7 linked regions of the Homo sapiens genome follow. The protein of the gene in region 1 purifies or fractionates together with the protein of each later gene. This does not show direct contact. Each region holds a gene or a part of one and is shown in the gene's direction. Other genes may lie near its edges.

Evidence for each region.
Region 2: the proteins of BTK (region 1) and ACIN1 purify together in Homo sapiens (co-immunoprecipitation; one large-scale study listed by IntAct). This does not show direct contact.
Region 3: the proteins of BTK (region 1) and TRIM44 purify together in Homo sapiens (co-immunoprecipitation; one large-scale study listed by IntAct). This does not show direct contact.
Region 4: the proteins of BTK (region 1) and PNISR purify together in Homo sapiens (co-immunoprecipitation; one large-scale study listed by IntAct). This does not show direct contact.
Region 5: the proteins of BTK (region 1) and BLTP3A purify together in Homo sapiens (co-immunoprecipitation; one large-scale study listed by IntAct). This does not show direct contact.
Region 6: the proteins of BTK (region 1) and NAF1 purify together in Homo sapiens (co-immunoprecipitation; one large-scale study listed by IntAct). This does not show direct contact.
Region 7: the proteins of BTK (region 1) and CD19 purify together in Homo sapiens (co-immunoprecipitation; one study listed by IntAct). This does not show direct contact.

Annotation. Positions count from the first base shown.
Region 1 is NC_000023.11:101,375,657-101,380,187, reverse strand, and holds part of BTK (tyrosine-protein kinase BTK), read left to right. Parts: intron 1-2,164; exon of another isoform or gene 2,165-2,329; intron 2,330-4,531. UniProt on the Homo sapiens protein: Non-receptor tyrosine kinase indispensable for B lymphocyte development, differentiation and signaling. Binding of antigen to the B-cell antigen receptor (BCR) triggers signaling that ultimately leads to B-cell activation.
Region 2 is NC_000014.9:23,061,101-23,065,167, reverse strand, and holds part of ACIN1 (apoptotic chromatin condensation inducer in the nucleus), read left to right. Parts: intron 1-679; coding exon 680-813; intron 814-910; coding exon 911-1,063; intron 1,064-1,590; coding exon 1,591-1,732; intron 1,733-2,093; coding exon 2,094-2,239; intron 2,240-2,644; coding exon 2,645-2,752; intron 2,753-2,892; coding exon 2,893-3,000; intron 3,001-3,545; coding exon 3,546-3,870; intron 3,871-3,983; coding exon 3,984-4,067.
Region 3 is NC_000011.10:35,721,222-35,725,752, forward strand, and holds part of TRIM44 (tripartite motif-containing protein 44), read left to right. Parts: intron 1-4,531. UniProt on the Homo sapiens protein: May play a role in the process of differentiation and maturation of neuronal cells. May regulate the activity of TRIM17. Is a negative regulator of PAX6 expression.
Region 4 is NC_000006.12:99,421,906-99,426,930, reverse strand, and holds the start of PNISR (arginine/serine-rich protein PNISR), read left to right. Parts: upstream 1-1,622; 5' UTR 1,623-1,716; intron 1,717-1,816; exon of another isoform or gene 1,817-2,060; intron 2,061-5,025.
Region 5 is NC_000006.12:34,861,583-34,865,082, forward strand, and holds part of BLTP3A (bridge-like lipid transfer protein family member 3A), read left to right. Parts: intron 1-2,419; coding exon 2,420-2,616; intron 2,617-3,500. UniProt on the Homo sapiens protein: Tube-forming lipid transport protein which probably mediates the transfer of lipids between membranes at organelle contact sites. May be involved in the retrograde traffic of vesicle clusters in the endocytic pathway to the Golgi complex.
Region 6 is NC_000004.12:163,135,550-163,140,080, reverse strand, and holds part of NAF1 (H/ACA ribonucleoprotein complex non-core subunit NAF1), read left to right. Parts: intron 1-2,830; coding exon 2,831-2,882; intron 2,883-4,531. UniProt on the Homo sapiens protein: RNA-binding protein required for the maturation of box H/ACA snoRNPs complex and ribosome biogenesis.
Region 7 is NC_000016.10:28,936,881-28,940,347, forward strand, and holds the end of CD19 (B-lymphocyte antigen CD19 isoform 2 precursor), read left to right. Parts: intron 1-142; coding exon 143-256; intron 257-390; coding exon 391-495; intron 496-574; coding exon 575-643; intron 644-743; coding exon 744-800; intron 801-888; coding exon 889-945; intron 946-1,792; coding exon of another isoform or gene 1,793-1,795; coding exon 1,796-1,888; intron 1,889-1,991; coding exon 1,992-2,083; 3' UTR 2,084-2,098; intron 2,099-2,260; 3' UTR 2,261-2,462; downstream 2,463-3,467. UniProt on the Homo sapiens protein: Functions as a coreceptor for the B-cell antigen receptor complex (BCR) on B-lymphocytes. Decreases the threshold for activation of downstream signaling pathways and for triggering B-cell responses to antigens.

The DNA of each region.
Region 1 (4,531 bases):
CTGCAGTGAGTGGTGATCTTGCTACTGCACTCCATCCTGGGTGACAGAGTGAGACCCTGTCTCAAAAAAATAGAAGGTATATTTGATCAAAGTTTTATATTCACAGTAAGCAATAAGAACCCTAGGGACAGAGAAGGGTGGATGTTCCACCTAAACACTGTGCTTTCATTCCATCAACAATGAAACATCCAGGAAAGGAAACAACAAGTGACTCTAGAAATTCACTAGTTAGACAGAATCTCCTTGGGAATGATTTAAAGAGGGAAAATGTAAGAAAACCTGGCAAGACTAAGAAGAGTCCTCAAGTGCAAAAAAAGTATAGTTGACAGTTACCAGAGACAGATCATCCTTACCAGCCTGGAGGAATATTGCAGAGGAAAGAGCTTAGGATCTTGAATACTCTCTTATCTCCTGTATTTACCACCATTTCCTCTCTTGCTGAACATTCCTAGAAAATGGAGAGGAGTTTGTCACAACTGCTCTTTGATGATAGCCATGGAGAATGACAGGGGCCCCAAGGCAGATGGCATCAACCTCATCAAAGACCAAAAAACAAATAAACGAACAAAAATCCCTCCGGTAGGCAGTGAAACACCACAAAAAAAGCAAGGGCTATAGATGATATACCAAGAGCTACAGATGGATGAGGTTGGACAAGTCACATAACCTCTGTGTCAGTTTCCTCATCTGTTTGTTGTGAGGAATAAATGAAATAATGCCTGTAAAATGCCTGTCAGGTAGAAGTCACTGAAAGGAACAGAAGTTCCATTCCATCCCCCTAAGGAAAGACAGGGAATGGCCAGAATCTTCCTAGCCAATTGAGTAGTGCTTTCAAGGAGAAATCAAGAGAAAACACTACTTCTTGGATATTTTGGCTAAGTAGTCATTTGAAGTACAGTTGACTGGTTATTTTATTTTAAATCATATCTCATAGACTCTTCCCAATCATAGGCTGGCTGTGTAGTTTTCTGAATTTTGCTCTGGTATTCTTCTTCTTTTTTTTTTTTATTTTTATTTTTTATTTTTTTTTTGAGACTCCAGGCTGGAGTGCAGTGTCACGATCTTGGCTCACTGCAACCTCCGCCTCCCGAGTTCAAGCGATTCTCCTGCCTCAGCCTCCTGAGTTGCTGGGACTACAGGCGCCTGTCACCACGCCCGGCTAATTTTTTGTATTTTAATAGAGACGGGATTTCACCATGTTGGCCAGGCTGGTCTCTAACTCCTGACCTCAAGTGATCCGCCAGCCTCAGCCTCCCAAAGTGCTGGGATTACGGGCATGAGCCACTGCGCCTGGACTTATTATTCTTAATAGTATTTTATCTTATGAGCGAAGATAAGAGCCCAAGATGGTTTAGTTTACTGATTCTGCAAGTGCTATTTCTATTAATTCCTTGGCATACTGCAGTTTGTATGATGGCTGCACTCTTGTTAATAAGCTTCGTCTTTCTGAATTCTGTTGCTCCATAGGGAGCTGGGAGGCTGCAAAAGGTGGCCCTGTAAAAATCTTTGCATTTATAATTTAATAAAGGGGACATTGTAACACTGGAACTCCATATTTTAAATGAAGAGCTCTGTGTCTATTTTTTCTCCTCCCCCATTTCTTTCTTTCTATAAACAACAGTGGTGTGTGTGTGTGTGTGTGTGTGTGTGTGTGTGTGTCTGTATGTTTGAGACATTCAAGTCACTTCCATTTCCACCCTTCACCCTGAGTGGAGCTCAGGGTTAGCCATCATTGTGCATATTTTGTGGTCAAACCGACTCTGTAGGCTACTGAAATTGTTTTAAAAAAATTGGGGCCTTTACTGGCCAGGCACGGTGGCTCATACCTGTAATTCCAGCACTTTGGGAGGCCAAGGTAGGCAGGTCACCTGAGGTCAGGAGTTCAAGACCAGCCTGGCCAACATGGGGAAACCCCACCTCTACTAAAAATACAAAAATTAGCCAGGTGTGGTGGCACACGCCTGTAATCCCGGCTACTTGGGAGGCCGAGGCAGGAGAATTGCTTGAACCCAGGAGATGGAGGTTGCAGTGAGCCAAGATCGTGCCACTGCACTCCAGCCTGGGCAACAAAGCAAGATTCCGTCTCAAAAAAAAAAAAAAAAAATGGGGCCTTTCACAATAAGTACCCACAGAAGCTTTACCCTCTAACTACTTTTTAACTCAGAGCTGTGTGTTACACACCAACCTTCTGGAGGACTCAAAAATGGATCCCTTTCCTTTCACATTATTGAGTGATGGACCAGTGGCACCTAAGGAAGAGCTACCACATTTTCAGGCTGTGTGAGTCTGGACTGGATCATAAGAAACAGGAGAAAAGCAGTCAAAGAAGGTGGTACCAAATCATGGCAATTCTGGTAGACCTCTAGCTCAATGATCTAGAGGTGGAGGCCATTTCACCTTTTGCTCAGAGGGGCGATGGCTAGTGAGAGACTTGCTTACTTCCTCATAGTCAGAGCAGCACTAAACCCTGCCCAAACACAGATACTTGAGAGAGAGGAAGACTTCCTCTTGTACAAACTGGATTTGTTCTAAAACAGAGAAAGAGTAGAGGCAGCTTCCAGAAGGACCTGTCTTATAGGAAGTAAGAGCAGGGGACAAGAATGAAACAGATGGTGGGTCTAAGCAGGGAATGTATCCACCAAGAGCCTGCAACAAAACTAAAGATAAAATGTTGCCTGCGATTTATTCGGCTAAGAGAAGTACACCAGACATGGTTTGTTGGGATGCTTCTGACCCCATTTACTGGTCACAGTACTCAATTTATTTAGGGTTTTATTTTTTATCCTGTAATTTGAGTCTTTGATTGTGAAGAGGTACTTAATTATAATTTGCCACAAGAATAATTGTGGTATGATTACAGGGCTCTCAATGAGTTGGTAGTTCCTGAGAATAGAGTAGTATTATTTGGTTACCACTACTCCTGAGTAAATGCATAATTGTAATGTTAAAATGAACCTCTTTGAGTTTAGAGCTAAAACTGAGTGTTGGGAAGGGCTGATTGTAAACTCATCAATTTGTCACTCCAGTGAGAGACCATTTAAACCAGGGAGTCAGGGTGTGTGGCAGGGTGGAGGGAAAGGTTTGCACTCTTGCCCAATTTTTCTCAAAATCTAATTTACAAAATATTGAATTAATCCACCTCCAGAAGATAGTGGCATACACATGGTAGATAAGTGGCAAAGCGATCTTCCAGAACACCCCTGGTGTTCCTTTGACGTATTTTCGTCTCCCCAGCATGAGAATAGAACCTCCTACACCACAGGAAAGAGCAAAATAACAGTGTGGATAGCCCCCAGGCTTTGATAAAATTCACTCCCTTGCTTTCCTAGTGTGAGCAATAATCTGCTTAAAAAGTAGAAAAAAACTGCTGGCTTTATTCATTCTGCTTCCACGGTGCCACCAAAAGCATAAGGAGTTTACTTAAAAAATAGACACATTCCCACCCCCACCCCCCCACCAGAGGAAAAATCCCTACCACTAATTAAACTTGAATGGAGGGCTGGTGGTTTTTTCGTTACTTACTTAGTGTTTTTTTGTTGTTGTTTTTGATTTTGTTTTTTGAGACGGAGTTTCGCTCTTGTTGCCCCGACTGGAGTATAATGGCACAATCTCGGCTCACTGCAACCTCCGCCTCCTGGGTTCAAGCGATTCTCCTGCCTCAGCCTCCCGAGTAGCTGGGATTACAGGCATCCACCACTACGCCCGGCTATTTTTGTATTTTTAGTAGAGACGGGGTTTTGCCATGTTGGCCAGGTTGGTCTTGAACTGTTGACCTCAGGTGATCCGCCAGCCTCGGCCTCCCAAAGTGCTGGGATTACAGATGTGAGCCACCGCGCCGGCCTAGTGTTCTATTTTTATGACAGCATTTGTTTTCACTTTATCTTTCCAATGAAAGTTCGGAATTAGTAATAATATTACACTGTGCATAAACTGTAAGTGAATAACTGATATGAAGTGTTGCTTGGTGTGAATAAAAAAGCCAGTGGTGACTTTGGGAACTTTATTTGTCTTTCTGTGTTTCAGTTACCTAAATTGAATCCTTCTGGAGTATTGTAGGTTTGGGGAGGCTAAATAAGTTGTGTTTCATAAATGAACAGAGGTGGCATCTATATCAGTAAGACAGTTGCATCACTTTTGCATGATGCTGTCTAAAAGAACTAATTTAAGCTAAATGGGGAAAAGGTCAGAAAACAACAACTACCCCCCCCCCACCAAAACCCACCAAAAAAAATTATGTTTTCAACTTTAGAACAAATCTTCTATCCTTTGTAGCTCAGTCAGTGGGTGTGGGCAAAATCAGTTGGGCAGCAGTTAGTGTGTGTCCAGAACTGCAGGTGCAGCCTCCATATCCTTATTAGTTCCCTTGGTTACAGACCCCAGTGGGACAATGTTTGAAAAATTATATTCACCGTCTAGGAAATTGGGAACTGAAAGTCCAATATCTGCCTCAGTGGAGTTCTGGCACCTGCATTATCCCTTCTGGGTATATCAAGATCAACAGCTGCACAGATACTTTTGCTTTTCACAGATT
Region 2 (4,067 bases), on another chromosome or scaffold:
ATCTGTAGTGTGAAAATTAAAGGAAGACCAGATCCCATCATGATCTTAGTTCTGCCTAGATGTTAGTATCACATAGTGTTCTTGTTTCTTCTGCATTTACATGTCCTTCTCAGTTTTTCTTCCACACTACTTGATATTACTGTCTACCATTAAAAGTTTAAACGGCTCATCAAACTAGCTACCCCTCCCTTACTGCTTTTAGATCAGTGTTCAGTCTGAAGCCATGGTTTCCCCAGTTCCCAAATATGATTTCTTTTCTTTTTTTTTTTTTGAGACGGAGTCTTGCTCTGTCACCAGGCTGGAGTGCAGTCAGTGGCACCATCTTGGCTCACTGCAGCCTCCGCCTCCCGGGTTCAAGCAATTCTGCTTCAGCACCCTGAGTAGCTGGGATTACAGGCATGCACCACAACGCCTGGCTAATTTTTGTATTTTTAGTAGAGATGGGGTTTCACCATGTTGGTCAGGCTAGTCTCAAACTCCTGACCTCGTGATCCACCCGCCTTGGCCTCCCAAAGTGCTGGGATTACAGGTGTGAGCCACCACACTCAGCCTCCAAATATGATTTCTTTAAGTTAACCTTTTACCAAAACTCCAGCCAGAGGTAACCTGTAGGTATTACGGTTTGAACTAGCAGAGGTCCTGAGACCATCTAACTGTTGGGTCTATTTCTTGGGGACAGCAGCTACCAAGGGGGTGCCAGCTGGAAACAGTGACACAGAGGGGGGCCAGCCTGGTCGGAAACGACGCTGGGGAGCCAGCACAGCCACCACACAGAAGAAACCTTCCATCAGTATCACCACTGAATCACTAAAGGTGAGGTGGGAGGAGCCAGGGAAGGGAGGATGAGACCTGTTAAGGTGGGAGTAGACATGGGCCCAGTGTAACGGGGTGGGGGGTATCTGTGTCCCAGAGCCTCATCCCCGACATCAAACCCCTGGCGGGGCAGGAGGCTGTTGTGGATCTTCATGCTGATGACTCTCGCATCTCTGAGGATGAGACAGAGCGTAATGGCGATGATGGGACCCATGACAAGGGGCTGAAAATATGCCGGACAGTCACTCAGGTAAGGCTTCTGCACCCCAGTGTCAGGGGAAAGGTGGGAGCAGTAGATGCAGAGCAGCTAGCTGAGGAGCTGAGATAAAGTCTTTGGAGGGAACTTCCCTGTCTGTGCAGAGGGTTGGGTTGACTGACACTTTCAGGGGTCAGACTACCAAATCCAGCTGGCTACCTGTTACAAATAAAGTTTGATTGGAACACAACCACACGAGTTCATTCACTTTTGTCTGTGGCTGTTTGTTCACTACAACATCACCAGAGTTGAGTAGTTGCAACAAACTATGTGGCCTGCAAAACCTGAAGTACTGCTTTGCTCTACAGAAAAAATTTACTAACTCCTGTCTTAGTTTTCCTCAAGGCAAAGTTGAGGCACTAACAATCCCAGGATCTGGTAGAAGTGAGCCGATAACGAAATACCCCTAGCGGAAGGAACATGCTAGATTGACTGCTACTCTTACCGGGGAACCAGAGGCTGAAAAGAATATGCCAGTTTGGTGTTTAACAGACCTGCTGTGTTCTCTGACACCTTGATAGGTAGTACCTGCAGAGGGCCAGGAGAATGGGCAGAGGGAAGAAGAGGAAGAAGAGAAGGAACCTGAAGCAGAACCTCCTGTACCTCCCCAGGTGTCAGTAGAGGTGGCCTTGCCCCCACCTGCAGAGCATGAAGTAAAGAAAGGTGAGTGACATATTGTGAGAGAAATGTAATGCGGCTCCCTGAATTCTCAGAGCACCTCATTTGGATCGCTGAAAGCTTTGAATGTTTCCTGCCTTTCATTATATTTTTTCGTATATCATATCTTTCTCCTACATATTAAGTAAGCTACTTGAGGGCCAGATTTGACTCTGTTTAATCTTTGAATCTCCATGATGAGGAGGTTAGCCTAGCACAGTACTTTGCAGATTATAGGTGCTCTGCACGTTTAGATTAAGGAGTGGCTGCTTGGTATAAAAGAAAGGGAACCGTGAGAGTTACATTGAGGGTGAAAAGAGCCAGTATTGCTTCCTACCAAAAGCTGTTCTTGTGGTCTTCTTGATAGTGACTTTAGGAGATACCTTAACTCGACGTTCCATTAGCCAGCAGAAGTCCGGAGTTTCCATTACCATTGATGACCCAGTCCGAACTGCCCAGGTGCCCTCCCCACCCCGGGGCAAGATTAGCAACATTGTCCATATCTCCAATTTGGTAAGTCATTGTTTCTCACCATCCCAGCTTGCTTAGTGGTTAAGTTTGAGCTTTAGGCTTATGCCTCCTAGGTTCCACTCATAGTTGAACTGGTCTACCAATAGATTAAGTTACTCACTGATCTTGAGTGAGTTACTTAACATATTTACCCATCTAAAAATGAGGGGGAAAAGCTGTTGCCCTGCAGGGTTGTTTTGAGGACTTGCAGAAGGCCTCACATACAACGTCTCAATTAGTGCTGGGAAGCACCACCACTCTTCTCACATTCTTACTGCAAGGTTCCTAAACTCTCTGCCCTCCCCCAAACCTTGAAACTATACTCCTGTGACAGCAGCTCGGGAAATCTAAAGATTGGGTGGTGGTCTTGCCTTCTGCTAGACCCTGAAAGTCTATTTTCATTGGCAGGTCCGTCCTTTCACTTTAGGCCAGCTAAAGGAGTTGTTGGGGCGCACAGGAACCTTGGTGGAAGAGGCCTTCTGGATTGACAAGATCAAATCTCATTGCTTTGTAACGGTGAGGGGAAGAAGCTGATTCTATAGGTCATGGCATATATTTCCTTTTGTGACCAGTGTGGGCAGGTTTAAGGGTGTTGCAGCACGTGGGAAGGGTTGCAGACACACTGTGACCCTCCATCTTCTCCCTTCCTCCACCAGTACTCAACAGTAGAGGAAGCTGTTGCCACCCGCACAGCTCTGCACGGGGTCAAATGGCCCCAGTCCAATCCCAAATTCCTTTGTGCTGACTATGCCGAGCAAGATGAGGTAAGAAACCTAGGGAGAGGAAAGAGAGGAGGGGCAGGGGAAGCCATTATCTGCTAGATTTCAGCTGAGATCCTTGCCAGACCTGCAGTCTCTGAGCTTCTGTTCTTTTCTCTTCTTCCCTGGCTTTGGTTCCTTTAATTGTACCATGGGGCTTCAAAGTGGTACCTGGGCTCCTTTTTTTTTTTTTTTTTTTTTTGAGACAGAGTCTCGCTGTCTCCCAGGCTGGAGTGCAGTGGCGCGATCTCAGCTCACTGCAAGCTCCGCCTTCCGGGTTCACGCCATTCTCCTGCCTCAGCCTCCCGAATAGCTGGGACTACAGGCGCCCGCCACCACGCCCGGCTAATTTTTTTGTATTTTCAGTAGAGACGGGGTTTCACCGTGTCAGCCAGGATGGTCTCGGTCTCCTGACCTCGTGATCTGACCGCCTTGGCCTCCCAAAGTGCTGGGATTACAGGCGTGAGCCACCGCGCCCGGCCATCCTGGCTCCTTGAGTGGGAGTGATATCACCTCTATCCTAACTGTCCTTGTCCCTCCTCTCCCCACAGCTGGATTATCACCGAGGCCTCTTGGTGGACCGTCCCTCTGAAACTAAGACAGAGGAGCAGGGAATACCACGGCCCCTGCACCCCCCACCCCCACCCCCGGTCCAGCCACCACAGCACCCCCGGGCAGAGCAGCGGGAGCAGGAACGGGCAGTGCGGGAACAGTGGGCAGAACGGGAACGGGAAATGGAGCGGCGGGAGCGGACTCGATCAGAGCGTGAATGGGATCGGGACAAAGTTCGAGAAGGGCCCCGTTCCCGATCAAGGTCCCGTGACCGCCGCCGCAAGGAACGTGCGAAGTCTAAAGAAAAGAAGAGTGAGAAGAAAGGTAGGTACTTAGCTATGGGGTACGCATACCCACTAGTAGGTGGGAAAGGGACCCAGATGGGATGGGACAGAGGGTCAGATGCATCATATCTGGTTCACTTTTTTCCACCTCAGAGAAAGCCCAGGAGGAACCACCTGCCAAGCTGCTGGATGACCTTTTCCGAAAGACCAAGGCAGCTCCCTGCATCTATTGGCTCC
Region 3 (4,531 bases), on another chromosome or scaffold:
TGGATTAATTTGACTTGCTAGTATTTTGTTGAGATTTTCTTTAAGCCACATTTCTTTTAAAAAATAGTTTTTAAAAAGTGTTACATGTTATTTTAGAAAATTTGGACTGAGAAGTGAAAAAGAGAAAAGTACTTGTAATTCCACCATTCACAGATAACCACTCTCCAACATTTTGGTATTTATTTTGGTCTTTTATAATGAAAATAATAACAGTAACAACAGCAATAGTAAATACCATTATATTATTTCATTGAGTGGATACCTGAAGTAACTAAGCGGTTAACTGAGATAGAGTTCCAGTGGTAGTACCTTATTAACAAAGTGGAGGTGATGAAAGAAGTAAAGATACAAATGACTGCTTTTGCCTGGAGGCTTCTGAAGAAGATGAGAAAGATAGCTTAATGAAGAGTTTAAATGTTCACTTCAGTAAACTTTTGTCCTTTCATTCTCAATACCCCATTGTAAAACCTGCTCATTTCAGGCTTCTAACTAGGTCGCTGAGGATGACATCACTGAGAATGTTGGTAGTGGAATGCTGTTCAGAGTTTATGTCTACCGTGTTTCTAGGCTGCTGAATAATTTTCTAAGCCTGGTGGGTGGGCAGTTGTTTTATTCACAAATAGTGGCTATTCCACTGATACACAAAAGACACAAGAAATAGGAGATCTTGCCATCCATTGAAAAAGCCTTGACCTCCTTGTTGATGAAGTTTTTCCCTTGCCTGCCCTCACTGGAGTCTGGCCTAAGTTTGGAAGGAGCTGTCTTGGAGTACAATGTAGGAATAAATGCTGAAGGCTAAACAGATGCCTTAACTTTGAACTTCCCAACTTGAAGTTTCCATAGACACTGGCAAGTGGGGAGGACACTGTGCTGTGGGAGTGTGGACAGCTTGTAGCATCTGAAAAAGTTCCATTTCCTGCTTTTTTGTTTTTCTGTTTTAGAACAATGGCCTTTCAAATGAGGAAGAGGGAAGTGAAAATGGACTTTTTGGGGAGATATTTAGAGTCTTCAAACTCTATTTCATGCAGTCTACAATTTTTAAAGTTATTTTTGGAGTAGTCTCCTTAACACCTTGCAGGAAATTTGGCTTGTAGGACTGTTACCAAATAGGGGTCCTGACCCAGACCCCAGAGAGGGTTCTTGGATCTTGCTCACGAAAGAATTCAGGGCGAGTCCATATAGTGAAATGAAAGCAAGTTTATTAAGAAAGTAGAGGAATGAAAAAATGGCTACTCCATAGGCAGAGCAGCCCCAAGGGCTGCTGGTTGCCTATTTTTATGGTTATCTCTTGATCATATGCTAAGCAAGGGGTGGATTATTCATGCCTCCCCTTTTTAGACCATATAGAGTAACTTCCTGGCATTCCCATGGTATTTGTAAACTGTCATGGTGCTGGTGGGACTGTAATGGTGAGGACCACCAGAGGTCATTCTCATCGCCATCCTATTTTAGTGGGATTTGGCCAGCTTCTTTACTGCAAACGTGCTTTATCAGCAAGGTCTTTATGACCTGTATCTTGTGCCGACCTCTTATCTCATCCTAAGAATGCCTAACCTTCTGGGAAGGCAGCCCAGTAGGTCTCAGTCTTATTTTACCCAGCCTGTATTCAAAATGGAGTGGCTTTGGTTCAGACGCCTGTGACAAAACAAATGTTTCTGAAATATTCAGTGTAGATTTGGATGCTTCTCTTTTGAGTAGCTTCCTGCTCCTAACCCTGACCATTATTCTCAGTTCATCTCAGCAATACTTTTCTGAAACAAATTGTTTTTCAATCTCTCTCTCTTTCTCTCTCTACCTCCCTCCTTCTGTCTCTCTCTACCTCCCTCCCTCCCTCTCCCCCTTCCAACTCTCTCCCTCCCTCGTCTCTCTCTCTCTTTCTCTATCTCTCCTTCTCTTTCTTTTTCTTGTTTCGACAGATTCTCATTTATAACTCTTTTGAAATGATGAGTTGTAAAAGTACATTAGACTGGACCAGAGGAAAGTTTCTAAACCTAACTTTATTATCGTACTTCTCTGTGACTTTTTTTCCCCTTCACCTATAAAATTAGAAGGTTAGATTCAGATGTTCAATAGGTAGTTCTGACCATACAGTGGTCAAAATTTTCAAATTGCAGTGCTATGTTATAATTTCAATACAATGCTATGTTTAATCATATTCCACTTCACCCTAATGCAACTATAACAAAGATATATCAGCTTGATTGTAACTAACATGCCAAAGGTTTTGATGTCTTAGGTTGGAAAATGCTTATTTGTTAATTAGAGAATGAGAGTGGGAAAAAGGCATAAAGGTTTTGTAAAGCGGATTATTTTTTCCTTCAGTTTTCATTTGTGACCTGATCTGTATAAAATACAGTGTCATGCTGAAAACCCTATGTAATTAAAGCCATGGGAAATAGAGAATTTTAAAATCCATGACTCATTCACCTGCTGCAGTCTGGCCCACACCTTTACTAAGTGAGATGTCAGCTTCCTAACTGAACCACATGTGTATGTGAAGTCTAGTAAAATAGGTTGTGAGTCAGTTTTTATTATGATATCCATTTTTAGTTACTGGTAGCCATTAAGAGAGTTTCTCAGGCATTCAGAAAAGTCCATCCCTTAGTGAAAAGGTTTGGTCTCTGAGAGAAGGACCTAGTCATTTGAGACTCAATTTATTTCAGGAGTAGAGATCCATTGATCAATGATCACTGTAAAGCATAATAGCCCTAAAATACATACACTAAAAATAAAAAGGAATTATATAAACACAAATCACAGTTCTCAATCTGATACAGAATTTACAGGGACATTAATAACATTTAATACACTTTCCCATTTTCTCCAGCACCAAGGAGAGCACCTGCAGAGAGTATATGAGGGCTTATGACACTTAGTCACTTGATGTGTGAGCAGATACATGTCATACAGGCCTTATTTTGCACTGATGTCCTTAGTAGTGTTACAAAAGCTGCGTAAGGTATCAAGCTTCTTTCGGTTTCTAAGGGGCTAATTAAAAATTAATCTGCTACCCCCTCCTGTAGGCTTTGTCTTTCACAGTTTCCTTTCTTAGGTTTTCCCAGTTTGACTTCCCTTCTGGCAGACTTTTATAGTGAACAGAGCACCAGACTGAGAACAAGAAGATTGGAGTCTTTCCCTCTTCTACAGGTTTGCAACCGTGTCCATTTCCTTATCTGTAAAAGGAAGGGGTTCATTTAGATGACAACTGTTTTCTCTTCCAGTTCTAAAATCCTCCATTGGCTTTTCTTCTGCCTTTCTCCTTTTGTCTACGGTTTACTTCTTCCCTGCTCCCTATCTCAGCTACACTCATAATATGCATAGTTGTTTTAAAATAATCATAAAATAAACATGGTTGTGAGGAAACATCAATAAATACAGTTGCTGGTAAAATTTGGAGTTTAGAAGTTCTCATTTTGATAATTTCTCACTTTGTTAGCCTTTCTTATGCCCTAAGCATAAATATAGCTAGCAGTTGTATTTTCTTTGGTTTGCAGTTGTTATAAAATAAAACAATAATATATTTGCACCCATGATAGTAAAAGTTTAAAAGCTTGATATAATCCAGTATTGGCAAGGGTGTAGGAAAATGCTTACTTTCATATGTTGTTGTAGGAATGTAATCAATACATCTTTCTCAGAAGGCACCTTGGCAGTATGAACCAATATTTTTAGAGTATATGCCAATTTACTAAGTGGCTCTAAACATCTTTAAAAAACTCATATGCGTATATTAAGAGATATAGCCAAGGATGTTTATTGCTGTGTTGTTTATAAAAGCAAAAATTTGGAAATATCCTGTACTTCCATTAAGAGAGGAATGGTTAACTAGGAGACATGCACACACTCACACACACACACACACACACACACACACACACACACACCCTCCATCTCCATATCATACAGATAGTAAAAATAGTAGAATGAAGTTGATCTGTATGCACAAATATATCTTAAGTAGAAAAGTAAGACAACCATATTTTCCCTATGATTCATTTATATAAAAACTACTTAATTATCTATATACATATATGTACATAACTATATAGAAAAATGGCTGGGAGGATACATACCAAACTATTAACAGTAATTGGGGCGGAGAGGAAGAATTTCGTTTTTTGTTTTGTTTTGAGATGGAGACTTGCTCTGTTGCCCAGGGTGGAGTGCAGTGGTGCGATCTGGGCTCACTGCAACCTCCACCTTCTTGGTTCAAGCAATTCTCCTGCCTCAGCCTCCCAAGTAGCTGGGATTACAGGCACCCACCACCATGCCCAGCAAGTTTTTTTGTATTTTTAGTAGAGACAGGGTTTCCTCATGTTGGCCAGGCTGGTTTCGAACTCCTGACCTCAAGTGATCCAGCCGCCTTGGCCTCCCAAAGTGCTAGGATTACATTCATGAGCCACCACGCCCGGCCTCATTTTTTACTGTATATATTCATCGTATATATTACTGGTATAAAAATGAACAAAACCGAAAGGAAAAAAGGATAAGAAATTACTCCCTGAAGAATGAAAAAGGCAAAAAGATTAGC
Region 4 (5,025 bases), on another chromosome or scaffold:
TACAGGCGCCTGCCACCACGCCCAGGTAATTTTTGTATTTTTAGTAGAGACGGGGTTTCACCATGTTGGCCAGGCTGGTCTTGAACTCCTGACCTCAAGTGATCTGCCCGCCTCGGCCTCCCAAAGTGCTGGGATTACAGGCGGGAGCCACCAAGCCCGGCCCATACAGTGATTTTTTAAAATCAGACTGTCCAGTAGTCTTATTTGTGCTAAGTGGAAATTAGGGAAAGGGTCAGAGAAATAGGGATTTCCTTTTGCCTTCAGTAGTATCCTCATGAACCTGCGTCATGGTGTTGTTAGGTGTAATTAATGAAGGTTTCTCACAAGATAAAATGTTATTTTGAGGACCACGTCCGTGGATTGGAGGAAAGGCAGATGGTTAGCTAGTGACGACTTTATTATAATGCTAATTCAGGAGTATCTGGGTCTCTAGTGCTGAGGAAAACTGAATTTTCATGCAAAGGGCATCTATATTTTCACATCTGTATCTTTATCCATCTAGCTGTGCTCTTACTATTTTGTTTCTACGGTAATTTGCTATTTCTTTTGCACGACAATTGCCCAATGAAATAATTCAGATACTTCGTGCACTTTGTCACGCAGAAGTTTTCATGTTACTCTCTGGAAAGGCACTTCCCAAGATGTAGCTAATAAACACTGTATCTTTGGAACATTTTTGTTTTCCTTTTAACTTGTAGCTCCTAGCCTGGAAATTGATACTTTTGACACTTGAACGTTGTTCATATAAAAACACTGTGAAATCAACATACTGTCTTTGAGGAATGGCATTGCATGCGTCCTTTTGAGAAGCCATCTTGTAGTTGAAGGAAAGCAGCAGGACGGAAACCAGACTTCCCCCCCACGGTTCCCTAAAAGTCACGGATAAAGAATGAAAAACCGGGACTAGTTAAGCCAAGGAGAGAAGAGCAAGTGTTCCCGGAAGGGGGCGCGATGTGTTGAGGTTAACAAAGAGAAAGACAGCTGCGGGGTCAGCTAAGGTCTCCGCTTTCGCTACCGACCCAGACTGCTCACCTTCACAAACTCACGTTTTCCTCAAGCGGCACCCTCGGCAGCGCTCAAGTGAGAGTATTCCATCCTTGGAATACTCCGAGAAGGTTCGAGCCAGAAGTTGGATTGCCTGAAATGCCGCTTCCAGCGCACTAAGTAACTTGAACTGCGCTAAGCAACTGGCCAGAATTGGTTTGGTTTGGTTTGACCCTGGGGTTCCTCCGTAGTCTGTAAGTGGAGTTGCGAACTCAACCCCTTCTCCAAGGCGGGAGTGTTTCTAGGAGGGAACATACTTCCCCTTAAAGGAAGATCACGTTGCTAAAGTAAAAAATTTGAAGGCGCCCTATGTGTAGAACACTTACGTTCTTGGCTTTCTGGCCACTATAAAGATGGGTCGGGAATGGCGCCAGCTACGTTAAAAAGTAACGTGCAGGAATGGTTCAGTTGCCCGGTGTTGACCAGAGTAGAGATGGTTTTGCCCACAAAAAAAATGGCGCCGAAACATGTCAATCCGCACAATCACGTGTTCACAAACCTGGATGAGAGATGGTATGGCTTCAGATGACAAACGGATGTTATTATTCTTTACTTCCGGGTGAGACAAATCGGGCGCCATCTTGTCTTGTTCCCGAAGAAGTAGAAGCATCGAAAGCGTTGGAGAGGTGTTACCGGAACGGCGGCGACAAGGGTGTTCCCGAACTAGAGTGGGTAAGTGATGGAGAACAATTATACGTGGGCACTTGCCGGACCATTACAACGTTCTTGGTTTCTGTGGCGAAGGTAGCATAACTTAAAATAGGCTGCGTACGCTGCTTGGCGCGACCGCTGGAACCTCATTCCTTTAAAGCGCTGCGGTCCGCCAGACTTGGTAAATCAGAGCGCTGCTTTCGCTGAAAAGGAAATGTCCTTGTTAAAGAGAGTGCTCACGGTCCCATCTTCTCACAGAGTTTCCTCTCGGACGAGAAGGGACTAATTGTTGGGTTCCTGACCGGCCGTTAAACACTGCGCGTGCGCAGTGGGAACCCCCTTGTGGGAAGGGGGTTCATGGGGGCGGAGGAGGCGGGGGCTCGCGACCTGGAGCTTATACCCTTTGAGGCTCTGACTACGCAGGCGCAGTTCCTTAGTTTGTGTTTTTCGTGTGTTCTTACCCAATGATGGATATTATGTGTTAAGCTTCGCTAAAGGTAGTATCCAATATTTCAGTTTTTTACCCTGTGGTGGATAGTATCGTCATCTGAACAAATTGAGCATTAGACAAATTTGTTTGTGGGTTGTTAAATTAACATTCTAGCTTAAGATTTTAATTCAACATTAATCTTTTACATCTTTTTACTTCCCCCTGCCCCCAAGTAAAACAAAATAAACTTAGAATTCCTCATTTGAGTGCAGCAGGGCGAAAACAACAGCAACCAGACTACTAAAGATTTTACTTGTGGAATTTTTTTGTAAAGTGGCAAAGGGCTTATAGAGAAAACAGTTCTTTAAAGATGTTCTTGAGAGTTTTTTTTTTTAACTTACTAATAGACTTTATGTTTTAGAACAGTTTTTGTTTACGTTGAGCACATACGACGTCCCCACTACACACACAGTTTATCTTCTTATTAATAGATGTTAGTATGGTACATTTGTTGCAACTAATGAACCAATAATGATAAATTATTAACTAAGGTCCATAGTTTATTCCTACTTCCTCACATTTTACCTAAAGTCCTTTTTCTGTTCCAGGATGCCAGCTAGGATATCACATTACATTTAGTTGTTGTATATTCTTAGGCTGTATATTCTTGGCTGTGACAGTTTCTCAGGCTTAACTAGTTTTTGATGACTGTTAAGGGCTGACTTGTGCCCCTCTAAAATTCGTATCTTGAAGTCCTAACCTCAGTACCCCAGAACGTGACTGTATTTGGAGAGAGGGTCTTTAAAGAAGATGAGGTCACTAGGGTGGACCTTAGCCCAATATATTAATAACTGCTGTCCTTATAAGAAGAGAGTAGGATACAGAGGGATGATCATGTGAAGACATAGGGAGAAGACAACCATCCACAAGCCAAGGAGAGAGGCCTTAGAATGAAATCAACCCCATAGAGCTTACACTATACGCCTCCAGAACAGTGAGGAAATAAATTTCTGTTGCTTAAGCCACCCAGTCTTTGGTACTTTGTTATGGCAAGCATACCAAACTAATACAGTGACCTTGACATTTTTTGAGGAGTATGGTCAGGTATATTGTAGGGTGCCCTGCTATTGGAATTTGCCAGACGATTTTCTCATGATTAAAATGGCCTTACGGACTATATCAGGGGAAGATCACAGAGGTAAGATGCCCTTTTCAACACATGCTATCAAGGATACATACTATCAAGGTGACTTATCACATTATTACTGACCTTGATCATCCTTCTGGAGTAGCGTTTGTTAGATTTATCCACTGTAAAGTTACTTCCCCCACCCCTTTTTATACTGTTCTCTTTGGAAGGAAGTCACTTTGCAGAGCCCACGCTTACTGAATGGACAGTTGTGCTCTTCCTCAGTTAGGGTGGAATATTTACATAATTTATTTGGAATTCTCTGTGGGAGATTTGTGTCTTCCCTCACATTTATTTGTTAGTTTATTTTATCATATCCTTATGGGCTTGTGGATGTTTATTACATAACTTATATTATAATCCAGTACTTCTTTATTTTGTTGCTCAAATTGTACCAGCTTTGGCCATTGGCAGCTCTTCGAGTTGTCTACTGTTCTCCTTTGACATGTTCCTATCAATTTTTTTTTTTTTAGCACTTTATTGCTTCCTGGCAGTATACATGCCCCAGACTCATCTTTTATATTTCCTGTCGCAGTCCTAGAGTCAGCTATTTCTTTAAAGATCTCTGATTCCTTTTATTGAAGAATGGTATTAAAACCAAGTTCTCGTGCCTAGGTGTGCTTGTTGCTACTAGGGTGTCATTTTGGGCGCTCTCGCTACATTTATTTTTAAATTATTATTGGGGGGGTATTTATAACCGACTCTCCAATTCTCCAGTTTTTTTTTTTTTTTTTTTTTTTGAGACAGAGTGTCACTCTGTTTCCCAGACCGGAGTGCAGTGGTGGCACAATCTTGGCTCATTGCAACCCCTGCCTCCCGGGTTCAAGTGATTCTCCTGCCTCAGCCTGCTAAGTAGCTGGGACTACAGGTATATGCCACCATGCCCAGCTAATTTCTGTATTTTCAGTAGAGTGGAGGTTTCGCCATGTTGGCCAGGCTGGTCTCGAATTCCTGGCCTCAAGTGATGAACCCACCTTGGCCTGCCAAAGTGCTGGGTTTACAGGCATGAGCCGCCATGCTTGTCCTCCACTTTTAAAATAGTCTTTTGAGCTACAAGCTGCAAGTATTTCAGTATATACTAAAATGCATGTCACATAAAGTAGCAAAATTTCTGTTTTCCGTATTTCGAATGATTACAAGATTAATTTTTACCAGTGCCATTTCCACCTAATCTGAATTAAACAAATAAATTCTTTTTTGACTTTGAGGTCAGTCAACTCATGTAAGACTGAAATGTCAGGGGTGAAGAGGATTGTTGTATTTTCTGGCTTCTCAGCTTTGTGGTTGATTTGAGAAATATTTCATCCTATGCATCAAATGATAGATGTGTTTCTGTAGCTCTTTGATTTTGTAGTTGATGCTCAAGGACTTTAAAATACCACATTTTAATTCTCATCCATCTCTGTCACAGTCTCTGAGTGACTTTTGTAAATATTAATGATTGTCATTTTGGCCACACGGGGTGGCTCATGCCTGTAGTCCCAGCACTTTGGGAGGCTGAGGAGGATGGATCATTGAGGCCAGAAGTTTGAGGATAGCCTGGGCAACATGGTGAAACTCCATCCCTACTAAAAAATACAAACATTATCCTCGCGCGGTGGCATGCACCTGTAGTCCCAGCTACTCGGGAGGCTGAGGCATGAGAATTGCTTGAACCTGGGAGGTGGAGGTTGCCGTAAGCCGAGATCACACTGCTGCATTCCAGCCTGGG
Region 5 (3,500 bases), on another chromosome or scaffold:
GTCTGCATTCATGTGTGCACTTGTGGATGGTTATGCATATAATATCCACAAATACTGTTTTTACAACAATAGGATTATATTATTTCTACAATGTTACATGCTGCTTTATTCACTCAATGTTTTATTATGATATTTTCCCATTCATTAGGCATATGAATATATGATTTTTATTTATTTTTATTTTTGGAGATGTGGTTTCACCATGTTGCACAGGCTGGTCTTGAACTCTTGGGCGCAAGTGACTCTCCCACCTTGGCTTCCCAAAGCACTAGGGTTATAAGCATAAGCCACTTCCCCTGGCTGAATACATGATTTTTAATTGCTCCATTATATTCTAGTAAATTGATATATCATAATTTATTGATCCATTCCTCTATCTGGGGAGTCATTTAGTCTGTTTCCCATTTTACTCAGGTAGAACCAATGCTGTATGAAATGTCCTTATTTTTGTGAACTTTAATCTTTGGAATATTTTACATATCTAAATCTTTCTTTAGAATAAAAACCAAAAAGTGGCTGGGTGCGGTGGCTCACGCTTGTAATCCCAGCACTTTGGGGGGCCAAGGCAGGCAGATCACGAGGCCAGGAGATGAGACCATCCTGACTAACACAGTGAAATCCCGTCTCTACTAAAAATACAAAAAATTAGCTGGGTGTGGTGGCACGTGCCTGTAGTCCAGCTACTCGGGAGGCTGAGGCAGGAGAATGGCTTGAACCTGGGAGGCGGAGCTTGCAGTGAGCTGAGATCATGCCACTGCACTCCAGCCTGGGTGATAGAGCGAGACTCCGTCTCAAAAAAAAAAAATAATAATAAAATAAAATAAAAACCAAAAAGTGAAATTATTAGGTCAAATGCTACAAACATTTTTAAAGTTGTTGATGCATTTGCCAAACTTTCAGGTTTGTAACAGTCTGTGCTTCTTAATAGTTTCTCTCTCAGAATCCCCTGCAGGGTTTGTTAAAACATAGTGGCTGGGCGCGGTGGCTCACGCCTGTAATCCCGGCACTTTGGAAGGCTGAGGCAGGCAGATCACGAGGTCAGGAGATGGAGACCATGCTGGCTAACACGGTGAAACCCTGTCTCTACTAAAAATACAAAAAATTAGCTGAGTGTGTTGGCATGCACCTGTAGTCCCAGCTACTCTGGAGGCTGAGGCAGGAGAATTGCTTGAACCCAGGAGGTGGAGGTTGCAGTGAGCCGAGATCATGCCACTGCACTCCAGCCTGGGCAATACAGTGAGACTCCATCTCAAAAAAAAAAAAAACCAAAAACATAGTTTTCTGAGCCCTATTTCTCATTCATGGAATGAGATGGGGCCTGATAATTTGCTTTTTTTTTTTATTGAGATGAAGTCTCACTCTGTCGCCCAGGCTGGAGTGCAGTGGTGTGATCTCGGCTCACTGCTGCCTCGACCTCCCAGGCTCAGGTGATCCTCTCATCTCAGCCCCCAGTAGCTGGACTACAGGCGCGCACCATCATGCCTGGCTAATCTTTGTATTTTTTTGTAGAGACCAGGTTTTGCCATGTTGCCCAGGCTGGTCTCGAACTCCTGGATTCAAGCCATCTGCCTGCCTTGGCCTCCCAAAGTGCTGGGAATATAGGCGTGAGTCACTGCGCCCGGCCTGAGTTTTTCTTAATTCTACCTTTAACTGTAACCTTGGGACAGTTTCTTCATCTGTAAAATGGGAGGGTGGTATTTAAAGGTCCTTAAAGGTTTCTTTTCACTGTGTTAATGCCTTTTTAACTTTATCTTCCATTGCTCTCCCTGACAAAACCTATGCTTCAGCTGGGCAGAGCTATTATTCTTACCAGTTTCTTTTTGTTTCTGGCTGTATGCCTTTGTTTATGCCATTGCCTATAGAATACCCTCTTCTCACTTTCACAGTCCTTCAAGGACCACCTCAAATGTTATTTCTTACCACAAAGCCACTCTTGATCCTCTTCTCCTTGTCCTTTTTCCTCTTTGATGTTGTCTAGAACTGGGGATGTCTTACTCATCAATTTATCCGTCTCCCACTCCTGCCTAGTGCCTAGTATGGTGCCTTACATACAGAAGCAACTAAATACTTATGGAATGAATGCAGGTGGCTTCAGGTGCCATTCATCAGCACCAGAGCAGTAGGTAGCTGGTCTCTTCTGAGTCTGGGATGACCTTGAATAAACTTGACATTTAATGTTGATATGAGAGCGCTGTCCATGCAGTTAGCGATGTTGGAATAAAAAGATTCAGAAAGGCCAGTGATTGAAAAATGACTTGATCTCTTTACAGCCAGTAATAGGTAATGTCAAAGTTGTATGTTCCTAATATTGGGAACTTTATCCAGTTGTCTGAGCTGAAAGGGATGGGTATTGTAAGTGGATGGGAATAAACATGTCTCCAAAGCCACATTTGTGGTTTTTGTTTTTTTTTTTAAACAGGGAGCCCATGGCCAAGACAGATGAGGGGGTGGCAGCCCCAGTGAGTGGAGGTGCTGCACGACTCCGATTTTTCTCCATGAAGAGGACGGTATCTCAACAGTCATTTGATGGTGTCTCATTGGATAGCAGTGGCCCTGAAGACCGGATTTCAGTGGACAGTGATGGCAGTGATAGCTTTGTGATGCTCTTGGAGTCTGGTATGTGGGAGCAGAGCCAGGCAAAGTTGCAGAAGTCCAGAAAGGGTTCTCTCTGCTGCCTGTATCAGACTGGCAGGGCTAAAGAGGAGCTGAGAGATGATAATATAGACATTTTCTTAATCAAGACAAAAAAAGAGAGACAGAGAAATTTTGGTGGACTTGTGGGTTTGGGTTTAATTCCATGTTTCTAGGTTATTGGTTAATAACTGACTATATCACAGAAAGAGATTCAAACCAAAGGAGAAAGCACTAGTCTTACAGCCTTATAGCTAAGTCAGGATTAGTTTCATGGTTGGTATCAGTGGTGTGAGTGTGCTTATAGTCTTTTTTTTTTTTTTTTTTTTGCCTGTGTTGTCACTGGAAAATAGGAGCTTTTTATCTGTTAATAAAATGAGAAACTTTTAGGAATTACCTCTGTAAGTTAAACTGGTTCTTTCAGTTTATTGAAATAATAGAAACTTAGGAAATGATCCTTTAAGAGTATCTAGGCTGGGCACAGTGGCTGACGCCTGTAATCCCAGCACTTTGGGAGGCCGAGGCGGGTGGATCACTTGAGGTCGAGAGTTGGAGACTAGCCTGGCCAACATGGTAAAAACCTGTCTCTACTAAAAATAGAAAAATTAGCTGGGCTTAGCGGCAGGTGCTTGTAATCTCAACTACTCGGGAGGCTGAGGCAGGAGAATTGTTTGAACCGGGGAGGTGGAGGATGCAGTGAGCTGAGATTGCGCCACTGCATTCCAGCCTGGGCGACAGCGAGACTCCATCTCAAAAAAAAGAGAGAATGTCCTATTTATTTATTTATTTTATATTGACAAATTATAATTGTATCTATGTGGTATTAATACTAAGCGATCCTATGATATATACACACACACATACAGTGT
Region 6 (4,531 bases), on another chromosome or scaffold:
CTACAATTTATTTTCAGATTTTGTACGTAGAATTCATATCTTTTGTAAAAAATGAGATGATCAGCCATTAAGAGCACATTTGAGCCATGTACACTTTCTGATTCTAGTTCAGTGTTTTTTCCATTATGTACATTCTTTAATGTACTTACTATTTTAGTATTAGTACTAATATTATTATCATTTCTTAATAACTTTTTTTTCAGTTAAGTAAAATTCTCTTTGGATTCTATTTAGGGGCCTTGCTCTTCAATAAAACTTTAAAATAGTTTTCAAGAGAAAAAAAATGAGTGTTATCTCTTTATTTTGCTTATAAATTTTAAGTTTGTAGAAGAGACAACTAACACGTGTCCCTGAAAAATTGTGTAGAAAGTTACGGTGTATGGAGTTGACCTAACCAACAAACCAGTGCTCTCCATTTTGTCTATCAATAATGCTAAGTGATTTCTGTGGCATGTGACCGCAATATTTTTTTATATTTGTGCTCCCATTGGTTGAATATTTTTCAAATGTTAGCTGTTGCCAGCTGTTAGTTGTAGAGCTGTTTGTATCAGCTAAACTTGTTATAATTATGTTATTTAATTTTTTATATCAGCAAATAGCATATGAATTTAAGATTTTTTTTTAATAAAAATAACTTGAATGCTTTCGAATGATGTAATGAATATGAGCCACTAAAAATATTTTCAAATTGGGAGTGGAAGAAAAGACTGCCAAAGACTGGGGGAAGGTTAAATCCAGAAAGACTTTGCACTCAGTTTGACACAGAAGTTCCTTTTAGTTCTAGCTCTTCTTTTATTGGAGACTTAAAACCTAGGCGATACATTTTTATAGATGTTGTTTTTGCAGGAAAACAAAGGAACTTTGGTCACTGAGTAACTTTGGTATTATGTCAAAGGTACCAACCCCAGTTGCATGGCATAAGAAGATTACTTATACCACTTACATGTTAAATCAAGTCTCAAGTCACCAAATTTCATTTATTTCAGAGATGAAAATTTTGATCCTGATAATTGATTTAACTCATGTTTAAGAATCTACATAAAGATCTGGAGGAATATTTTGCCTAAGTTATTCTTCACATTGCATAAGGTTATTTTCTTAAATAACACTGACAAGAAAGATGAATTAAATACACATAAAGTCTTCAAGATATTAATATGTTCTAAAATGCTTTAAATATTTAGCATTTCATCCTGCTTTGAATATAAAGATACTGCTGTGGATATGCCATATATTTAGCTTTTTAACAAATAGAGTATTTTAGCTTAAAACAGATAAATTTGAAGAGGTTTTCTGAAGATGGTTTTTAAATAGATTTTAGATAATAGACTCAGTCTTTGGTTTTGATTTGCAGTTCTTCTATTAAGAAGCAGTAGTAAATCAGTGAATTGGGAAATTAGACCTATATTGCAGAAACCTCCCTCTCCCAGGAAAACTGTTGTATTCTAGACCTCATTTTGGCATCTGTCATGGGAACTTGGTGGAGTACTTTGTCTTTGAGGTAGAGAAGTTCAGCTCCTTTCCAGCTTACTGTTCTCTAATGAGGCTATTTTGATCTTAGTTTCTCATGTACTTACTGTCTTGTTAAAAGTGCCTTTTGAAATGTTGCTTGATCTTTCCTTTAGTAGATTTTGATTTTTTGTAATAGACGCACTAGTTGGGGAATTTTTCCCATTTATGTCTGTGATTCCAGGCTAACAGCAGTCCAGATCATGAGATGTCATATGTGCAGAAAGGAATACCAGAGATATATTTAAGGCCCATGTGTGAAATGACAATTGAGGAAATGCTTTTTTCTTTTAAGTGATGGAAAAGCCATTGATAATGGCTCATATATAATGTCAAAGTTCCGAATCAAAAATTTAAAGCAAACTTAATAACTTTCATGTTGTGCCAGCAAACTGACATCTGTACATTGATTTTAATGGCCTTAATTCCTGGGAATCTCATTTATTTTTGAGATCTAGTTTAAAACAATAAGGACATCTAGTCCTAATACTTTGTAATATTTTACTTTGTGATATTTTAACATAATGGAATAACAAAATAGTAGCTGAAACTATGAAATTAACAAAATTAAAAAGATTAAAAATGAGCTTTCACAAATTATACTGCTCATAATAGATATCTGTACTTTTGTTGGATGTAAAGTGTAAAACTCTCCACCAAAAGTTGTTGATTTTCAGCTGCAATTACACATTTCACACATGCCAGTCATTATATTGTCCTTCAGAATCTTTAAAGCAGCTTCTCTTCCTCTTCCTCCAACTATTCATAGTTAGCCTTTGTTTGACCCTCACTGCTTTGAGAATCAGTGTTGGAATAAGCCTTGGTTACTCATAGAGGATTGCTGACATTCCTCAGGTAAACTGAGGAGAAAATAATTCATATTGATATCTCTGCCATTAAACCTGTAAAATCTGTGAAAAGGGAATGCCTCATAGTCATTTTTATGTCCTTCGCACATGGAACAACTTCTGATCTACAGTTGGCGTGAAATAAGCATTTTTTTTAAACTGAGTTTTGTGAAAACTGCAAATATTATGAAAACAAAAATCAAAAGAGCTGTCCATCTGCTTTCCACTGCACACCATAGCCTTGGCTTCTCATTCCAGTTCCCTAATCCTAATATTTCTACTTGCTCAACTTTTGTGTTTTTCTTAGGAGCTTCCCACATCTTTTGAAATAAGGTAAAAGACACATAACTGTATTGCAAAATTAAAGGTTGAACTCATGTCCTTTACTTTATTATTTTCTGTACTTTTAAGTTATGAGCACTTAATAGAATTGTGATGAATACTTTTTTGACTCCCATCCCCACCCCACTCAGGGATAAGGGATCAGATGCATCATGGAAGAATGATCAGGAACCACCACCAGAGGTAAGTATAAGTCTTTTTATGCAACATTTTATAAAGTAGGGCAGGACTTAATCTTATAAATTTTATCATTCTTGCTGTTAGGGAAGTCATTAATACTGGCTAGCAGCCATACTGCCTTATCCTGTCCTAGCGCATGTATTCTCTCACCGTCCTAGATGACTATTTCATACCTTTCAGTGAAAGGTTTTGATTGATCATTTAGGAAAAAAACTTTTTTCAGTTACATTTAGTTGTATTTTAATAATTATCACCTTATCATTTACATTGTAGTTTACTATTTTTGTCAACTTTGTTGATGTCTGATAAAGGCAGGCTGTCATTATTTTTTAAAAATTTAATTGAGTTTAGTAAATACACCATATGGGACATGAAGACATGGTGCTTTTAATAGCTGTCCTTCTTTTGGAAGTACAGAATCATTGGAAGCACAAGATCATTGGAAGCTACCTACCTCTCTACTTTTTACGATATAACTACCTTTCTAAAAAGAGACCTTGATTTTCTTTTTGTATCTATGTCAGCAAAACAATAGTTTTATGCCCCAAGGTGACTTGATAATCTAGTCTTCCTAGAGATGTGAAGTAAATTTAGGAATAATATGTAAATAAGTTAATGATTTAATAGGATTACTTGGTTAACATTCCATGAAAGTGTTTAAGCAGATTATCTTGAGGGGTTTTTTTTTTGAATTACAACAATGAATATATTCATTTCTTAAAAATAGCATGTATTTATACAGTATAAAATAAAAATGTATATAAATATTTTTATAAGTAAAAATTATACATGAGAGTTTTTAAAGCTTGCTCAGCAGTTCTTATGAAGTTTTCTCAGTATTACAGTTTTTTTTTTGTTTTTTTTTTTTTTAACAAATATAGACATGGGGGTCTCAGTGTGTTGCCCAGGCTGGTCTCAAGCTCTTGGCCTCAAGTGATTCTCCAGCCCTCAAGCAAGCTTCTGCCTTGGCTCCCCAAAGTGCTGGGATTACAGGCATGAGCCCCTTGCCCAGCCAGTATTACAGATTTTTGATACTTACCGATTTAACCTTGGCCATTTTAGATGTTTAAAGCAATCGTAAATCATGATCTGTGTTTCTAATTTTACTGAGGTATGAATCAGGTTTATGCCCACTTGGAGGGTTCTATACAGGTATGAATCACTTAACCAGTGAATGATCCTTGCTTAGTATCTGAATTGAAATGGAATTATGTTTTCTAATTAATGTTATGTATTTATGTGATTTCAGTTAAGGCTCTGAATATTCACTTAATGTTCTGAATTAAGTTTTAGAGTATCTATAGCATCTTATTACTGGAATTACATGTTTTAAACGTGTTTAGAGATTCATAAACATCTCAAATCATATTTCTTTTAAAATCCAGATATTCTTTTTTTCTTTTTTTGGGTAGGGGATGGAGTTTTGCTCTTTCTGCCCAGGCTGCAATGCAGTGGCACGGTCTCAGCTCACCGCAAACTCTGCCTCCGGGTTCAAGCAATTCTCCTGCCTCAGCCTCCTGAGTAGCTGAGATTACAGGCGCATGCCACCACGCCCAGCTAATTTTGTATTTTTATTAGAGACGGGGTTTCACAATGTTGTCCAGGCTAGTCTTGAACTCCTGACCTCCAGTAATCCACCCCTCTCTGCCTCT
Region 7 (3,467 bases), on another chromosome or scaffold:
CCAGGGTTCAAGGCCGGGTTCCTAGACCCAGAGTCCATTCGCAGAGCCCAAAACATCCTCTTCCCGTGCCCCGCCGCGCGGACCCTTAGCCTTGACCGCCCCCATCTCTTCTGACCCCGTCTTACAATGCCCCTCTCACCAGGACGCGCCCAGCGTTGGGCCGCAGGCCTGGGGGGCACTGCCCCGTCTTATGGAAACCCGAGCAGCGACGTCCAGGCGGATGGAGCCTTGGGGTCCCGGAGCCCGCCGGGAGTGGGTGAATGACTGGGAGAGGGAAGGGTCGTTCCCCACATGGAGGGGGTTGGAGCGGTCTGTGGCCCGAATAGTGGACTGGGCCCTGGAGGAGAGGGGGCATGACTCGGTTCCCCATCCCCATCCCCAAACCCCCAGGCCCAGAAGAAGAGGAAGGGGAGGGCTATGAGGAACCTGACAGTGAGGAGGACTCCGAGTTCTATGAGAACGACTCCAACCTTGGGCAGGACCAGCTCTCCCAGGGTAAGGCTGCCCTCCCCCGTGGCCCCCCACCTCTGCGGTGGCCTGTGGACTCCCATGGACACCCCTCCTTCTCCACCAGATGGCAGCGGCTACGAGAACCCTGAGGATGAGCCCCTGGGTCCTGAGGATGAAGACTCCTTCTCCAACGGTAACTTGGGGCCTTTGTGGGACCTCAGAGACTTAGGTGTAATTGCAGCGCTGTGACACTCCTAGAAGGGGTCCCTGGAGTTCTCTCTCTTCTGCCACAGCTGAGTCTTATGAGAACGAGGATGAAGAGCTGACCCAGCCGGTCGCCAGGACAATGGGTGTGTGTGAGGATGGCAACAGTCCAGGGGGGAGGCGGAGGACACCTGGAGGCCAGGAGGAATAGTAACCTCCCTCTTCCCTTTCCAGACTTCCTGAGCCCTCATGGGTCAGCCTGGGACCCCAGCCGGGAAGCAACCTCCCTGGGTGAGAGATGCTTTCAATCAGACTGCCTTGCCCAGCTTGGGTGACCTGGCCTCAGCTCTGACACCAGATCCAACTTTGACCTGACCCTGACCCCAAACCCGAACCCAATCCTGTGACTCCTCTCACCTCAACACTGAGCCCCATCCCCCATCCTGAGCCCCATCCCCCATCCTGACCCCCAATATTTACCCCCTCCCTAACTGTGAATATCAACACCGATCCCAATGCAGTATCAGCCTGGACTTGATCTCCACCTCACCTCAGCCCCAGTGCAGACCTCAACTTGGACCCCAGCTTACTCTGCAGCTTCTTCATGACTCTGACTCCGACTCCCTCCAGTTTCTTCTTTTTCTTTTTCTTTTTTTTGAGACGGAGTCTCCCTCTGTTGCCCAGGCTGGAGTGCAGTTGCCACCTCTGCCTCCTAGGTTCAAGCGATTCTCATGCCTCAGCCTCCTGAGTAGCTGGGATTATAGACGTTTGCCACCACACCTGGCTAATTTTTGTATTTTCAGTAGAGACAGGGTTTCGCCATGTTGGCCAGACTGGTCTCCAACTCCTGGCCTCTAGTGATCTGCCCGCCTTGGCTTCCCAAAGTGCTGGGATTACAGGCATGAGCCACCACGCCCAGCCCAGTTCTGTTCTTGACCCCTTCCTTAGCCATAATCTAACCCATATCTAACCCTGACCCTACAGCTAACTGGGGCCCCAAACTCAATGCTAACCAAATCACCCCTTCCCAGCACAGCATGGGTAATGCTCCTCACCTTCCTCTGCCCCTCAGTCTTCCTCCTTACCGTAGGCTGTACTTCCCATGCCCTAGCCTCCAATTCTCCATCCCCCGCCCAAGCAGGGTCCCAGTCCTATGAGGATATGAGAGGAATCCTGTATGCAGCCCCCCAGCTCCGCTCCATTCGGGGCCAGCCTGGACCCAATCATGAGGAAGGTGGGTGCTTCTGCCGCTGTCCCCTGCTGTCCCCTGGGCTGACTTTGCCTTCCAGCCTACTTCCAGTGCCACCCATGTTCTCCTCCTCCCTGGTCCTATCCAGATGCAGACTCTTATGAGAACATGGATAATCCCGATGGGCCAGACCCAGCCTGGGGAGGAGGGGGCCGCATGGGCACCTGGAGCACCAGGTGATCCTCAGGTGGCCAGGTGAGCTGGGACTGCCCCTAGGGAAAGCGGGGAGGGAGGGAGATAGGCACGGATGGCAGTGGCTGCTGGCTTTCAGGGAGGGAGAGGGAACAGGGTTCCTAGGGCCTGGTGGGCAGGGGGAGGACTGCTGGACCCCTCCCCATCACCGTTTCTTCTGCATAGCCTGGATCTCCTCAAGTCCCCAAGATTCACACCTGACTCTGAAATCTGAAGACCTCGAGCAGATGATGCCAACCTCTGGAGCAATGTTGCTTAGGATGTGTGCATGTGTGTAAGTGTGTGTGTGTGTGTGTGTGTGTATACATGCCAGTGACACTTCCAGTCCCCTTTGTATTCCTTAAATAAACTCAATGAGCTCTTCCAATCCTATGAAGTAGTGCCATTGTGTGGGAAGGAAGGGAAGGAAAGGAAAGGAAGGAAAGGGAAGGGAAGGAAAGGAAGGGAAGGAAAGGCGTCTTGAATCCCATGGAAGAGGGAGGGCTGCCTTCTGCATACAAAGGGCCTTTTCCCGGTGCGGTGGCCCACACTTGTAATCTCAGCACTTTAGGAGGCCAAGCAGGTGGATCATTTGAGGTCAGGAGTTCGAGACCAGCCTGGTCAACCTGGTGAAACCCCGTCTCTACTAAAAATACAAAAATTAGCTGGGTGTGGTGGCGAGCCTGTAGTCCCAGCTACTTGGGAGGCTGAGGTTGGAGAATCACTTGAACCTGGGAGGCAGAGGTTGCAGTGAGTGGAGATGGTGCCATTACACTTCAGCCTGGGCGACAGAGCGAGACTTCGTCTCAACAAAAAATAAAAATAAAAATAAAACAAAGGGCCTTTCCCCTTCCATGGCCTAGCCTTCACCTACTGCCCTCTTTTGCCCGCTGCCCACAGATCCGTCACGATCAGCCCCCTCCCACCATCCAGCTACCCAATTATCATTAATTCAGCAGTTACATGCTGGGTGCCCAGTGGAGAAACAGCCCAGGAATTAGCAGTCTAGTTAGAAGATGCTATTCATTGTCACTGAGTACTTATTTATTGAGCATCTACTATACTCTTCTTTTTTTTTTTGTTTTTGAGACAGGCTCTCGCTTTGTTGCCCAGGCTGGAGTGCAGTGGTGCAATCATGGCTCACTGCAGCCTCGACCTCCCAGGCTCAAGAATTTCTCCCACCTCAACCTCCCAAGTAGCTGGGATTACAGGTGCCCGCCACCATGCCCAGCTAATTTTTTGCATTTTTAGTAGAGACGGGGTTTCACTATGTTGGCCAGGCTGGTCTCGAACGCCTGACCTCATGATCCACCCGCCTCGGCCTCCCAAAGTGCTGGGATTACAGGTGTGAGCCACCGCACCCGGCCACAGCTCATTTTTTATTTTTTGTAGA